Linked DNA regions of Homo sapiens. The protein of the gene in region 2 interacts with the protein of the main gene of each other region in a pairwise test. Each region holds a gene or a part of one and is shown on either strand. Other genes may lie near its edges.

Evidence for each region. The genes of interacting proteins can lie anywhere in the genome.
Region 1: the proteins of CEBPA (region 2) and DDIT3 interact in binary tests that used the Homo sapiens proteins (3 or more experiments, as listed by UniProt).

Annotation. Positions count from the first base shown.
Region 1 is NC_000012.12:57,517,515-57,525,237, forward strand, and holds the start of DDIT3 (DNA damage-inducible transcript 3 protein), read right to left. Parts: upstream 3,001-7,723; 5' UTR 2,967-3,000; coding exon of another isoform or gene 2,904-2,966; intron 1,746-2,903; exon of another isoform or gene 1,649-1,745; intron 240-1,648; coding exon of another isoform or gene 198-239; 5' UTR 192-197; exon of another isoform or gene 1-191. Other genes in the region: uncharacterized LOC128125814, read right to left, coding at 198-239, 2,904-2,966; MBD6 (methyl-CpG-binding domain protein 6), read left to right, coding at 6,790-6,902, 7,206-7,308, 7,439-7,601. UniProt on the Homo sapiens protein: Multifunctional transcription factor in endoplasmic reticulum (ER) stress response. Plays an essential role in the response to a wide variety of cell stresses and induces cell cycle arrest and apoptosis in response to ER stress.
Region 2 is NC_000019.10:33,299,526-33,306,551, forward strand, and holds CEBPA (CCAAT/enhancer-binding protein alpha), read right to left. Parts: upstream 3,010-7,026; 5' UTR 2,995-3,009; coding exon of another isoform or gene 2,890-2,994; coding exon 1,813-2,889; 3' UTR 409-1,812; downstream 1-408. UniProt on the Homo sapiens protein: Transcription factor that coordinates proliferation arrest and the differentiation of myeloid progenitors, adipocytes, hepatocytes, and cells of the lung and the placenta.

The DNA.
Region 1 (7,723 bases), on a different chromosome or scaffold from region 2:
GATGCCTGTTTTTGTAGGTAAAGTTGTACTGGAATACAGCCACATCTGTTTATTTACATATTGTTTATGGCTGCTTTGGTGCTACAGTGGCAGAGATGAAGAGTCACGCTAGAGACTATAGGACTTTTAACATCTAAAATATTTACTGTCCTGCCGTTTAAAATTTTTGGAAAAGGGTAGGTTAAGTTTACCTGCTTTCAGGTGTGGTGATGTATGAAGATACACTTCCTTCTTGAACACTGTGGGCAACAAAGAGAAATGTCAGCCATTTTTGGAAGGGGGAGAGGCAACTTACTTTTCTTTTTCTTTTTTTCTTTCTTTTTTTTTTTTTGAGACCAAGTCTTGCTCTGTTGCCAGGCTGAAGTGCAGTGGTGCGATCTCGGCTCACTGCAACCTCTGCCTCCTCGGTTCAAGTGATTCTTCTGCCTCGGCCTCCCGAGTAGCTGGGACTACAGGCGCGTGCCACCACGCCCAGCTAATTTTTGTGTTTTTAGCAGAGATAGGGTTTCACTATGTTGGCCAGGATGGTCTCCATCTCTTAACCTTGTGATCCATCGCTTCCCAAAGTGCTGGGATTATAGGCATGAGCTACCGTGCTGGGCCCTTATTTTTCTTTTACCTCCAGCCTCCTACTGGTCCTTCCTTACTTCTGGTCTTGTGGGGTATGCATACTTGGTCCCTGTAGCCATTTCGAAGGGCAGAAGAGGGCCTGACTTTCTTTATTTTTAGTTGCTGACATTTGTAGTCCTGGTTACATAATAGTAAAGTCCTGGCCAACTCAGCTTTCTCTAAATCCAAAGCAGGCCTCAAATCTGCCAGGGTAAAAACTAAACTACAGGGAAGGGAACAAATCATAGCATTTTCCTAACTCCATTCCCACAGGGCTGACATCCTCCAAATGTACATTTCCAGTCTGGACCTCTTCCAGAACTTCAGACTCTGCTGTCTACTGCCTACTTGCCATTTCTTTTTCAATGTCTAATAGGCACCTAAGACTATGTGCAAAGGCAAACTCTTGCTGATTTTCCCCTTCCAAGGTCATCCCCATCTCAGATGACAACTCTAGTTGCTTAAGCTAAAAACCTTGGTATCATCCTTCATTCCTCTTCTCTCACACCCTGCAATCCAAAGTACTAGCAAATTTTAACTCATTCCTTTTTTTCTGAGACGGGTCTCACTCTTTTTGCCCAGGCTGGAAGGCAGTGGCGCAATCGGCTCACTGCAACCTCCGCCTGCTGGGTTCAAGCGATTCTCCTGCTTCAGCCTCCGGAGTAGCTGGGATTACAGGCATGCACTGCCATGCCCGGCTAATTTTTGTATTTTTAGTAAAGATGGGATTTCACCATGTTGGCCAGGCTGGTCTTGAACTCCTGACCTCAGGTGATCCACCCACCTCTGGTCTCCCAAAGTGCTGGGATTACAGGTGTGAGCCACCATGCCCGGCCCTTAACTCATTCTTTAAAAATGAGTTTTTAAAACCTTTGCTTAGAAGAATCTAAACACTTCTAATTCCATTGTTTCCAATCTAGATCAATTCACTACCATCTCTAAATTACTGCAGAAACTTTCTGACTGCAGAAGGTCTTCCCATTTCTTCTCTTGCCACCCCTCCGCAACTCTATTCACCATACAGCAGCCTGAGTGAGCCTTTTAAAACAGGTCATTCCTCTGCTCAAACCCTCCAATGACTTCCTATTTCATGTCATGGAAGTCACTGAAGGGTTTTGAGTGGAGGAATTACCTAAGGTAATTCCTGACCACCTGATGTAACACTCTGACCTCCATCCTGAACATTCTCCATTCCTTTCTCTGCTTTAGCTTTCTCCGTGGCACTTATATTTTGTTTACTGTAGGCCTCCCACTGAGATGATTTTTTCCTCTTGCTCAAGGATGTACCCTGAGCCCCAAACTGTGTGGCACACAGTAGGTCCTCATTAAGTATTTGTTAAGAATGAATGGATAAACTCCCCCCAGTCTCTCTTATAGGGAAGGGGCAGAAGCAGAGTGGCAGCTGCTGATCCCTAGGGGCTAGAGATGCAATATTGCCCGAAGTATTTCTCTGCAGGGCTGTCCTCCCTGGGGAACCCTCCCTTGCCTTCCAGTGTGTGGGACTTGGCTTTCATCAGCAGTAGAGCCTCAGGTCAGAAGGCTGCAGAGCCAAACGGGGCTGGCCTGATGCAATGGTTACACAGAGATTAGCTGGGAGACAGGACCGGGTTAAAGAGGCAGGGACTAATCCCGAGGGAAGGACAATACCCTGGGGAGACCCCAAATGGCCTCCTACACTTAAGAGATCCAGGCTGCTCTCTTGTGCAGGAGGCCCAGAGACCTCTACGGCAAAAGGAAAACACACCACTCCCTGTCCATCGGCACCCCTCCCAAAGGCTTGTGTCTCCTCAAGGTTCCCCTATCCGCTGCAGGGTCCAGTAGCCCCAGCTACCAAGGTGGCCATGCTGACACCAGAGGCACTGAGACTGAGACAGAATTGGGGGTGGGGTAGGGAGAAGGCCCGCTGGTGGCGAAGCGGCGGAAACGGCCTGAGCGATGGTCACCCAGTCTTAGAGCGGGGGTGTGTCCTGCTGACCTGCCTCCCCGCGGACAGGCCTAACGATGAGGCCTGAAGTTGGCTACGGGAAAGAATGAATTTCCCAAGGGCAACCGAGGTCCCTTTGCCCAGCAGCACAGAGCAGGGCCCGTGTTCCGGCTCCGGGCAGGGGTGGAGAGACGCCGTCGTCCGAAGCAATAGGGGTTTGTAAGCACCACCCCAGAATAAGGGACTCTCCCCATTCCTCTCTCGGACGGTCCCTAACTTCACTGTGGAGGAGTGAGGCCGATCCTAAAGAGCGGACGCCCCAACTTTGAGGAGACGGGAGGGTAAAAGGTAGATGGGAATCAGTACTCGCCTCTCTCCTCAGGTTCCAGCTCTGATTTTGGCTCTGTCGCTGCCACCCGCTCATCTTTAACATGATACGCTCAGTGCCTTAGACTTAAGTCTCTGACCTCGGGAGCGCCTGGCTGTAATCTTTTACCATGGCCTTGCCCTCCTCTCAGGGGCGGGACCCCAAAACCTACCAATCAGAAAGTGGCACGCCGGCATTGGCCCCGCCCCGTCCCTCGCATCCGCCACTCAGGAGCCCCGCGGCACCGCCCCCGTCGCTCCCTCTCGCTAGGGGGTCGACGTAGTGTCGGACCCGGAAGTGGCTTTGGGTCACGAGGCTTCACGGAGGAGGTGGGTGAGTCATGCGCGCGCGCGGAGGGGAGTGTAGCGGGGGGGGAGGGGAGGAAAGGGGGGCGGGGATGATGCAATGTTTGGCAACCGGTGTCTGCACGCGCACGCGCAGGGGACACCGAGGGTGGTGGGAGGTGCGGAGGGTGGGGGAGAGGAGAGAGGGCGGGGCGCCAGCTCCCGGCGCCCAACGGCCCCAACGGCTATCAGCCTTGGTCGCCCCTAGTCGGTCGTGAGCCTCTTTGCCGCTTGTCTCCCCCAGAAGCTGCTGTTCCGCCCACCTAGCTTTACCCGCCGTTTTACCCCCACTATAAGGGACTCCCATATTTCTTGGCCCCTCCCAGCTAATGGGCACATAGGCCTTTTGAACTTTTCTTTTTAAAGTTGGTATCCATCCACTGGGATTGTCGACATCTCGAGTCTTCTTAAAGAGGTCTCCTGGCCGGGCTCAGTGGCTTACGCCTGTAATCCCAGCACTTTGGGAGGCTGAGGAGAGCGGATCACTTGAGGTCAGGAGTTCGAGATCAGCCTGACCAACATGGTGAAACCCCGTCTCTACTAAAAATACAAAAATTAGCCGGGTGTGGTGATGCGCGCCTGTAATCCCAGCTACTCTGGAGGCAGAGGCAGAAGAATCGCTTGAACCCTGGAGGCGGATGTTGCAGTGACCGAGATCGCGCCACTGCACTCCAGCCTGGGTGACAGAGCGAGACTACGTTTCACCAAAAACAAAAAACAAAACAAACAAACAAAAAAACGGGGGTGGTCTCCTGTTCTAGCCCCGTAAATCTCCCAAAAGGGGCCGAGGTACTGGAATCCCTTGGTAGTCATTTTCCGCTTCTCTCAGAACAGCGCCCTTGACTTTTACCTTGTAGTTGGTAAGCCCTCAGCCTGCCAGAAGTCATGTATTTTGCCCAGTGGACCCGATTCTGTTTGGCCACCTATTTTCCCCCACGGTACTCCTATGGCTTTCTCCAAGACCCTCTCTTGCTGTACCAGACAGCAAGTCCTGTGACTCCCTGTGTGAGGAGCGCGGCACAGGCCTGCCTCCTAGGTGTTCGGGTCGAGATTTACAGCGGAGTCTCATCCCGGGACGTGTGAGTGCACTTCAGCGCAGGACTGCCCTGGACTGGGGAGACCGGAGCCGCGATTTTAGACTCAACTCCCCATCACTTGCCAAGGGATCTTACCGTCCTTGTTTGTAAATTAAAGATAAAAGTTGTGAAGGTAAAATGAGAACCATGAACTTGGAGGCAACTTGACCAAAAGTAAAACGCACCACCCAGAATGCAAAGTATTTTTCTTGTGCCTTGAAAACAGAGGCCATGTGGTGGCCTGTTACATATCCTGTCATACCCTCATGGGGGCAGCCAGAGTTTAAGTAGAAACTGTCACAAGGCCGGTTGTGACTGGAGTGGTGTGGCAATGACAGGTCTTTGGTTAGGCTGCTCCGCTGCTCCACACCTCCATTTCCTCTCTGAAAATGGGGGTAGTGTGGAGGGTGGACCAGATGGTCTCCCCTGGCCTAAAGACAGACCAGGTTGTCAGTGACAGGCAGAGGTCATGTGACTTGACAGGCTGAGGTCGTGTTGTGACATGTTGACCTGGGGAGGCGGGTCAAGTCCCAGCACACTACCCGGGAAGCCTTTGGGGCGGGGCAGGGCAAGTCGCGACTTTCATCTTTCGGGGCCTGGCCCCTCCCGGACCTGGCATTCCTGGTTCCCGCAACAGACTGTGGCTTTGGAAGGGGCCCCTCCCTGAGGAGGGCTGGGATTGGCCACCAGTGGCCTGGGAAGAGGCGCAGATCCTTCCGCGGAGGGCGGGGGGGCCGCGTGGGGTGTTTGTTCTCTTGGGGATTAATGGGGGGTTGTGGGGGAGGGGTAGGCGCGCTCCCGCATGCGCACTGCAGCCCCTCCAGTTGGCTCGTCGCTGTCCGCTGGGCGGGGGCCCGGCCCCGCCCCTCTCCCGTCCGGGCAGCGGCGGAGGCGGCGGCTCCTGCGGCGGCGGCTGCGGCAGCGACGGCGGCGGCGGCAGCGGCAGCAGCCTGCGCAGTGCCTTCTGGGAACGGAATCCCCAGGGCTGCCCCTGGCCCCCATGGCGCATGCGCGGGAGGCCGCTCGGTGATCCGCGGCGGCGGCAGCGGCGCTTCCTGCTAGGACCGGCCGGGGCCGTACCGGAGGCTCGGGCTCCACCGACCCTCCTCCCACCCCCTCCCACTCACCCTCTGGGCCGCGACTGCGCAGGGCGGGGCCGGCCGAACCATGGGCCGCGGTGAGTGCGGGGCCCGGCCCCCCCCACCCTGCCCCTCCCCCTCCCGTCCCTACCCTCTGCCCCCTCCGCGTCCTCTCGGCCCCTTTCCCCGGCCCCATCCCCACTCCCCCGCCCTCACCTGCCCCCGCCGCTTCTCCCTCTCACTGCCAGACTTCTGCCTTCCTCACCGCCCTCCCCTCAGTGCTTCGCCCACCCTCCGCCCGCCCTCTCCCCAAGTTCCTTCCTACTTCGTGCGCCTTCCCCTCCTCCTCAAGCTGAGGGAAGCAGTCTGGGTGACAGGGCGCCTTGTTGTGAGAGGGAAAGTTTGGAAGCCGCCAGTGTGGGGTGGGAGCAATGGTGAGGCTGGGGAGGATACCTGCAGGTTGGAGGGGCTTCCCCTTCTATCGGAGGACAGGCTCTCTTGGAGATAATCGGAAGCCAGTGGAATAGGAGGTTCTGAATCCCTTTGCCGTAGGCTTGAGGGAAAATCAGGAGCTTCCCAGGATCCTGGGAGAAGACTGAGCTGTGATCCTCACCTCTTAAGACCCGAATGAACTATATCAGCGATTGTCTGATGGAGCAGGCATGGGGGGAGTTCTGCTGGTACCACCCCAGCGGGCAGTTGGGCAATTGCCTGGTGACCTGTGGGGCAATCTGTACTTTTTATATCATCTTCCTGGGTAGAGAACAACAGGAGCCAGACACTCTGGGAAACTTCCTAGTGGCCTAGCATTATGGGAATGTGCCCATACTCCTGGTTGAAGTCTTCTACTCCGAATGGAGGGAGGCCTTGCCCTTCATATGCCTAAGAATTGGGCTAGACTTTCTTGGTCCCAGGGAGCTGAGGTTCTGACCCTCTGGTCCCTAGGGACTGGGCTTGGAAAGGATGGTTGTAGACTAAGCCAGCAGATCCCCGAGATCTTTATAGGTGCTTGCCTCACATTGTTAAGGATCTTTCTTTTGAGAGGGTGCTGGGCTGTGCTGCTCTTTAGAGTTGGGCAGACTCCTGACAGTCCCATCTCTCTACTTGCGTTGCAGGTGTGGGCTAAGCTGGTGGCCCCGGCTTTAGACTGGACCCCACAATGTTTGCAGAGATGTTCAGGTAGCTGTGGTGATACGGCAGAGGACTCCTCAGTCTCCCTCCCAGCTGAGGGGTTCCCCTTGCTCCTCTGGGGCTTCCCCTGAGTTTTCTTGGGTCTCCCCACAACCTTTGCCTTCCTGGAGTCCTCTCTCAGGTACTTCGCTCAGTTTAATCCTCCTAGTGCCTACATGGATGTCTGTGTTATCAGGCACGCGGGAGCTGATTACACACAATGAATGGGGGCAATGAGAGCAGTGGAGCAGACAGAGCTGGGGGCCCTGTGGCCACATCTGTCCCCATCGGCTGGCAGCGCTGTGTGCGAGAGGGTGCTGTGCTCTACATCAGGTACGGATCTTCACAGGTCCCCAAGCTCTGCCACTCCAGTTGCCCAGGTTTTCTTTCTTCCGTTTCTTCTCTCAGCTCAGCTCTCTGGTACCCGATTGCTCTCCTCTCTTCCCCTTCCTTCCTCAGCCTTTTTGCTTTCTGTAGCTCTGGGCCTTTGAATCCATTCTCCCTTTTTCTGTGTCTTCCCACATTCCTTATCCTCTGTTCTTCTAGGAGGATCTGTAACTTAAGCACTGTGCTTTAGGAGTATTGCCTGATTCGCTGCCAGCTAACCCCATGTCCTCTGACCCTGTCCTCTCGCAGTCCAAGTGGCACAGAGCTGTCTTCCTTGGAGCAAACCCGGAGCTACCTCCTCAGCGATGGGACCTGCAAGTGCGGTCTGGAGTGTCCACTTAATGTCCCCAAGGTCAGAGTGGTGAGGGGCGCCTGAGAGTACAGAGATAAGCTAAAAGTCTTAATGCAAATCACTGACTGAGGTAGCCCTTCTCACAGGTTCCAGCCCCTCAGGGTCCCTGTCCTTGCTTTCCACCTTACAGGTTTTCAACTTTGACCCTTTGGCCCCGGTGACCCCGGGTGGGGCTGGGGTGGGGCCAGCATCAGAGGAGGACATGACCAAGCTGTGCAACCACCGGCGGAAAGCTGTTGCTATGGCAACTCTGTACCGCAGCATGGAGACCACCTGCTCACACTCTTCTCCTGGTGAGTCTTCTGCCACTTTACAGAAGACCGAGGAAAACCTAAGGGCTTGGAAGGCTGGTGGTGGGAGGAGTTCCTTGAGAGGGAGCAAAGAGAAAGGGGAGTGGGTGGGGAGCTGCATGTTG
Region 2 (7,026 bases):
CAGCTGTAGGTGATTTGCAAGGAAGTCTGCACAAAGGGCTCCTTGAGCCTAGGGCTGCTTAGCCAGGCCTACCCCTCAGGCAGAGGACTCCCTCTCCTCCTCCCCGGGGCAGATAAGAAGCCTCGCCAAGGCCTCAGCCCAGTAACCCCTTCAGCCCCCTCCCCTGACCCCAAGAGACTGCCTTCAGGCTCTGGACATACTCCATTTGGAGCCTTGTCCTCTGCTATTTATTTGTCTTGCCTGGGGGAAGTAAGTCACCCCCTTAGGGTAAGAGGGGCTCAGGATGGATGGAGAGCTCATGAAAGTCAGGATTGCCGCCAGGGAAAATGCTGTATTATTTACAAATGTGACCTGGCCCACAGACAACCTTGGAAGTAGCTTCTTTCTGGTTTTAAAAAGACACCGACATTGACTTTGATATGTTTATATTATAGATATAATACATAAAACATCTAGAGTGAGACTCTACGTTCTCCCCAAAAGAAGAGAACCAAGCCGTCCTTCCCTGCTCCCAGCCCCAGTGATGCGTTGGCGGGAGGCCACCTCCCTTCCCGACCAGGAGCCAGGGCCTCTGGGGGACAAGCCTTGTGGGCAGCCCAGGCCGGAGGGGCTGGGGAAAGCTGAGGGCAAAGGAGAACCCCCCTCACCTCATTGGTCCCCCAGGATCAAAAGTAATCCCAAAACCAAAAGGAAAGGGAGTCTCAGACCCTTCCCCCAGCTGCCGACGGAGAGTCTCATTTTGGCAAGTATCCGAGCAAAACCAAAACAAAACAAAAACCAAATAAAATGGTGGTTTAGCAGAGACGCGCACATTCACATTGCACAAGGCACTGCTGGGGCACAGAGGCCAGATACAAGTGTTGATATCGGCTGATAAAGCAAAATATTTGGAAAGCTTGTCATAACTCCGGTCCCTCTGGGATGGACTGATCGTGCTTCGTGTTCCTAGGCAATGCTGAAGGCATACAGTACAAACAAGGCTGAGGGTCCCAGTGGCCCTTCACCCCCCATGCCCGCCCCACAGCCAGATCTCTAGGTCTCCCTCTCCCACCAGGGGTATACATCCTCAGAGCTGACCCACGACCTAGCTTTCTGGTGTGACTCGGGGTGGGGGCTCCCACTGGTCACCTGGTGACCCCCATCGCAGTGAGTTCCGCCCCAAGGGGAAGCCCAGCCTATAGCAGGCTGGGGTGGGGTGTGTGCGGAGGGAGGTGGGAGAGGCGTGGAACTAGAGACCCTCCACCTTCATGTAGAACTAGGGGAACAACCTTAGGTTCCAAGCCCCAAGTCCCTATGTTTCCACCCCTTTCTAAGGACAGGCGTGGAGGAGCGGCTGGGGCTGGCGGGCTTGTCGGGATCTCAGCTCCCTGAGCCCTCCTCCTGCCACGGGCCTGCTCCCCTCCTTCTCTCATGGGGGTCTGCTGTAGCCTCGGGAAGGAGGCAGGAAACCTCCAAATAAAATGACAAGGCACGATTTGCTCCCCCTACTCAGTAGGCATTGGAGCGGTGAGTTTGCATTTCCAAGGCACAAGGTTATCCTAAATACTAGAGTTGCCGGGCTCCCAGCTCAGCCCCAAGAATTCTCCCCTCCTCGCAGGGAGAAGCCACCGCCTGGCCCCCTCATCTTAGACGCACCAAGTCCGGCGCAGAGGAAGGGAGGGGACACGCGGAGCAGGCCAGGCTTTCAGGAGGCACCGGAATCTCCTAGTCCTGGCTCGCACGGCTCGGGCAAGCCTCGAGATCCGGCGACCCCAAACCACTCCCTGGGTCCCCGCCGGAGGCTGGCCCAGGGCGGTCCCACAGCCGCGCGCCTCACGCGCAGTTGCCCATGGCCTTGACCAAGGAGCTCTCTGGCAGCTGGCGGAAGATGCCCCGCAGCGTGTCCAGTTCGCGGCTCAGCTGTTCCACCCGCTTGCGCAGGCGGTCATTGTCACTGGTCAGCTCCAGCACCTTCTGCTGCGTCTCCACGTTGCGCTGCTTGGCCTTGTCGCGGCTCTTGCGCACCGCGATGTTGTTGCGCTCGCGCCGCACCCGGTACTCGTTGCTGTTCTTGTCCACCGACTTCTTGGCCTTGCCCGCGCCGCTGCCGCCACTCGCGCGGAGGTCGGGGTGCGCGGCGCCCAGCCCCTTGAGCGCGCTGCCAGGGCCCGGCAGGCCGGCGGCACCGAGCGCGGGCGCGGGGTGCGGGCTGGGCACGGGCGTGGGCGGCGGCGTGGGGTGACCGGGCTGCAGGTGCATGGTGGTCTGGCCGCAGTGCGCGATCTGGAACTGCAGGTGCGGGGCGGCCAGGTGCGCGGGCGGCGGGTGCGGGTGCGGGTGCGAGGGCGGCGGCGGCGGCGGCGGCTGGTAAGGGAAGAGGCCGGCCAGCGCCAGCTGCTTGGCTTCATCCTCCTCGCGGGGCTCCTGCTTGATCACCAGCGGCCGCAGCGCCGGCGCCCCGACGCGCTCGTACAGGGGCTCCAGCCTGCCGTCCAGGTAGCCGGCGGCCGCGCAGCCGTAGCCGGGCGGGGGCCCGTGCGCTCCCCCGGGCATGACGGCGCCGCCGGGGCCCGCGGGCGCGCCCGGGTAGTCAAAGTCGCCGCCGCCGCCGCCGCCCGTGGGGCCCACGGCCGCCTTGGCCTTCTCCTGCTGCCGGCTGTGCTGGAACAGGTCGGCCAGGAACTCGTCGTTGAAGGCGGCCGGGTCGATGTAGGCGCTGATGTCGATGGACGTCTCGTGCTCGCAGATGCCGCCCAGCGGCTCCGGGGCGGCAGGTGGGGCGGGAGGCTGCGCGGGGCCCGCGCCCCGGGGAAAGCCGAAGGCGGCGCTGCTGGGCGCGTGCGGGGGGCTCTGCAGGTGGCTGCTCATCGGGGGCCGCGGCTCCGCCTCGTAGAAGTCGGCCGACTCCATGGGGGAGTTAGAGTTCTCCCGGCATGGCGAGCCTCGGCGGCCTCCAGCCTGCGCGGGGCGTCGCCGCCGCCCACCCGGAGACCCTGCTCGCCCGCGCCCGCGCACCTCCGGGTCGCGAATGGCCCGGCCCGCGCCGGCCCAGCTTTTATACCCGGCAGGCCGCGTCGCCCCCTAGAGTCCGAGGCGGCCTCTGTCCCCGGGCTGCGGCGGCGCGGCGCCTGCTGGGTCCTAGCGCGCGGCCGGCATGGGGCGGCGAACCAGCGCGGCACAGCGCCGCGCTCCCCAGGCAGGCCGCGGCGCAACGCCCACCGCCTCCAGCGCGCCCAGCAGAGCCGCGGCGCTCGCTCCAAGCTCCGCCCCCGGCCCGGCCGTCGCCCCCGCGCCCACGTGGTCGGTAGCGGGGGCCCCCTCCTCCTGCCTGCCCTAGGCGCCCGTATCCAGCCACGGCCGGGAGCCCAGGAGTATCCCGAGGCTGCACGGGGTAGGGGTGGGGGGCGGAGGGCGAGTCTTGGTCTTGAGCTGCTGGGGCGCGGATTCTCTTTCAAAGCCAGAACCAGGCCTGTCCCGGACCCGCGTCCCGGGGAGGCTGCAGCGCAGAGCAGCGGGGCTGGGGCCGGTGGGGGGCCGTTTGGGACGCGCGGAGAGGTCCTGAGCGCGGTGGCTCTGCGTCTCCTAGCTCTGATCTCCAGGCTACCCCTGTGATTCCGCGCAGAGGTACCTCTCGGAGGACGCCGGGGTCCCATGGGCGGCGCCGCGCAGGGCGCTAGGACCCCGCGGGGAGCGGAGGCGGCCTCGGCCCGGGAGCCTGGAGGACCTGGCCGGTCGATCCGCCCGGGCTGGAAAACTTTCTTTATAATTACTTCTCCAGGTCGGAGCGCGCGGCTTGCTAGGCGCGCGGGGCCGGCGCTGTTACCCGGCGTGGAGTCGCCGATTTTTTTTCCTGCGGGACCGCGGGGCCCCCCAGACTAGCGGAGCTGGACGCCGGGGCGAGCACGGGGAGGGGCGCACCGAGGGAGGAGACAAACTTAACTCTGGGGCCGGGATTCCGAGGCGGGGGCCGCAGCCCTCGAGGCCCGAAGCCACCGCTTCCTCCCCCGCCTCCCCATTCAGGTGGGCGCCAACGGCGGGAGCGAGGGTGTCCAGGCCGCCGGGCTGCCAGGTCCGAGCACGCACAGGGAGAACTCTGCCCAGTGGTTCGCCGGGCGCTGTAGTCCCCGGGATCCTAGGGACCGAGGCGGCCAGGCCCTGGGGCCCCTTGAGTGCGGCAGCTAATGCTCTCACCGCGGCGGGGGAAGGAGCTTGCCACCGAGACCCCCAGCCACGTGCGTCCCTCGCATTCTTTACCGGGGCCGGGGTGGCGGCTACGGACCGTCAGCTGGGCCCAGATGGAGTCTTGGGAGCCCTCAAGTGTCTCCTGTCCTTGCCCGCGCCGCCCCTCGCCACTGGCGCTGAGGCCTGACGCCGCCTGCGTCCCGGCTAGAGGCGCGCTTGCCTACAGGTGAGGGAAGACCCCCTTCACCGACAGTGGCCTTAGGCCTGGCAAGGCGCCACGACCCGCCCAGGAGCCCCGGAGGGGGCACAGCTAAAAACACCGCTGGAGAGCCCCGAGCTTCCACGACGATCGCAGTAAAGAAGCAGTTTCATCTGGGCAACGCACACTGCGCTTTAATCAAGTTCCTATTCAACATAGTCCCAGTGATTAATAGCCCAACTGCTTCGTTTTCGGTCCAGAGCTCATAAACAAGATATTTTTAGCTTGACGCTTTTGGACGGGAGGGAGTAAAAACCAGATACGTTAAATAAATATCCCGATGTGAGCCGGAGAGCTGCTTGCTGAGCCAAATGCAGGACCCATTCATATAGCATTCACCTGTGGAGGGAGACCTGGACGGAAATCAAAAAGCACCAAGAGCGATTTGCGTTTTTTTCTGCGGTGCTAAAACTAATGGCTTTTCCTACCTAGGAACAAAGAAACGCCACTGTACATGCACGGTTCCCGGCCTGTGGAGTTGTGGGAGGAAGGCGATGTCTGGCCTTTTTTGCACAGCTGCTGTTGCCTGCCCAGAGATCGGGAACTCTGCCCCGTAGGACTGGAAGAAACCTCAGTAATGGGAATAAGACTTTGTCCAATAGGGGGCTGATGAATGTGTGGGGGCGACAATGGCAAGGAGTGGGACTCCCGGCCCGGGGTTCGCCAACCCCAGGGGCCACAGGTCCTCCTACAATTGAACCAGAATTCACCCACCCGGGCCTGCCCTGTGCAGGGTGCCGAGAGCCCAGGGATGCATGAGAGGGTGGCTCCTGCCTCTGGGAACTGGGACAGTGGGAGAGACGGATAAGTTGTCACACAGAGGCTGCTGGGAGGAAGGAGGAGACAGAAGGAGTAGGGGATGGGACTTCATTCATTCATCAAATGCACACGAGGCACAAATGGGAATCAAGGGTGGATGTGCTGTGATGAAGAGAAGTCCTGCCCTGAACAAGGTGGCGCTGTGGAGGAGGCAGAGATCAGATTTGTCTGCGGAGGTGTTATGGACTGAACTGTGTCCCTGCCCCAAATTCCTATGTTGAAGGCCTAACCCCCATGTGACTGTATTTGGAGATAAGGCTTTTAGGAAGTCATTAAAGTGAGATGATGTCATATGGGTAGGGTCCTAATTTGATAGGATTGGTGGCCTTATCAGAAGAACAATGTCATGGGCATGCACAGAAAGGAGGTGGCCGTCTGCAAGCAGGGAAGAGGCCCCTCACCAGAACCTGAGGGTGCTGGCAGCTTGGCTTTGGCCTTGGGCATCCAGCCTCCAGAACCATGAGAAATAAATGTTTATGGTAGGTCTATGATGGCAGCCTGCTTGGACTGAACCGGCGGTGAGACAGGGCTTCATGCAGGAGCAGACCTTTGAGCTGGGCCTTGAAAGTTGAGCAGGAATTTGCTGGAAGGATAAGGGAGGAAGGCTCTTCTAGGAGGAGGGAATGGTAAGTGCAAAGGTGGAGAGCCTGCCAGTGCATGTGTTCTGGTAACAAAGAACGAGATGGTTGGCCGGCTGGAGAGTGGGGTGAGGGAGGGTGGGGCCTAGATAAGGCTGGATCCGCAGACAGGGCTGGGCTGATGGCCAAGGCCACTGCAGGTGAAGGGGGAACCCTTATCTCCCAGGCTTTTGACCTCCAGATTTTAGCAGGGGAGCTTCGTTGTCGGATTTGGGTTCCTGAGAATCTACTCTGGCCAAGACGGAGAGGGGGTGTTGACCAGATGGGAAAGGATGGAGACTTGTATTGCCCCAGTAATGAGCGGGCAGGGTAGATTAGAACAAGATGTCAGGACTTGGGGGCTGAATGCCAGGCTTCTGGCTGGGATTACCACCCCCTGACACATATAATGCCCAGGAAATTGGAGGCCCCTCTCCAAGCCCCCAGGAGGCCACTGGGGACTCATTCCAGGATACTCACCTGCCTGCTTTGTGGTTTTGGAGGGGAAGACCTTGGAGCAGTTGCGAAGATCCATCTACCATGTTCTGGTTTTTCCTTGGAAGCCTAAAAGTGTACCTCGGGATGAGGAGGAAATGGTTTTGAGGGCAAGTGGTAGGTCTCTGGCTAGGCCTGGCGGGGTTCTCAGAGGACAGGGGGTGTCTAGGGCCCTAGATAGAAGTGTCCTGCCCAAGCCCTAAAGCAGGAAATTAGCTGGGGAGTTGGGGTGAGACCCTGGGGTCGATGGAGGCACTTTCCATGGGAGAGTCCCACAGGGTAAGGGAGAGGGGGCTGATGTCTGACAGTCTCATAGACAGTTGGCTTGTGGCTGGAGAAGTGGGAGCAAAGGAGAAATCACCTTTGATTGGGAGAAGTGGCTCTGGCTCATGTGCAACTGAGACAAAGCCAGTCCTAAGAGCAGCTTGTAAATTCTTCTGTGACCACCTTTAAGGTCCTTCTTCCTGAGGCTGTGGATGGGGGTGTACACAGGCCCAGTGTGGGGGGTTGAGCGTGAGTCCCCGGGAAACGGTGGTCCTGAGTTTTGGATGCTCCAGGATGAAGCCTGATTCTGGAGTCAATCACAGCACTAACCATTTTGAGAAGACAAACAGAGCCCTAGAAATGTTTTATTTTACTTTGGTTTAACCTTCCTAATGCAAGGCCCACGAGAGA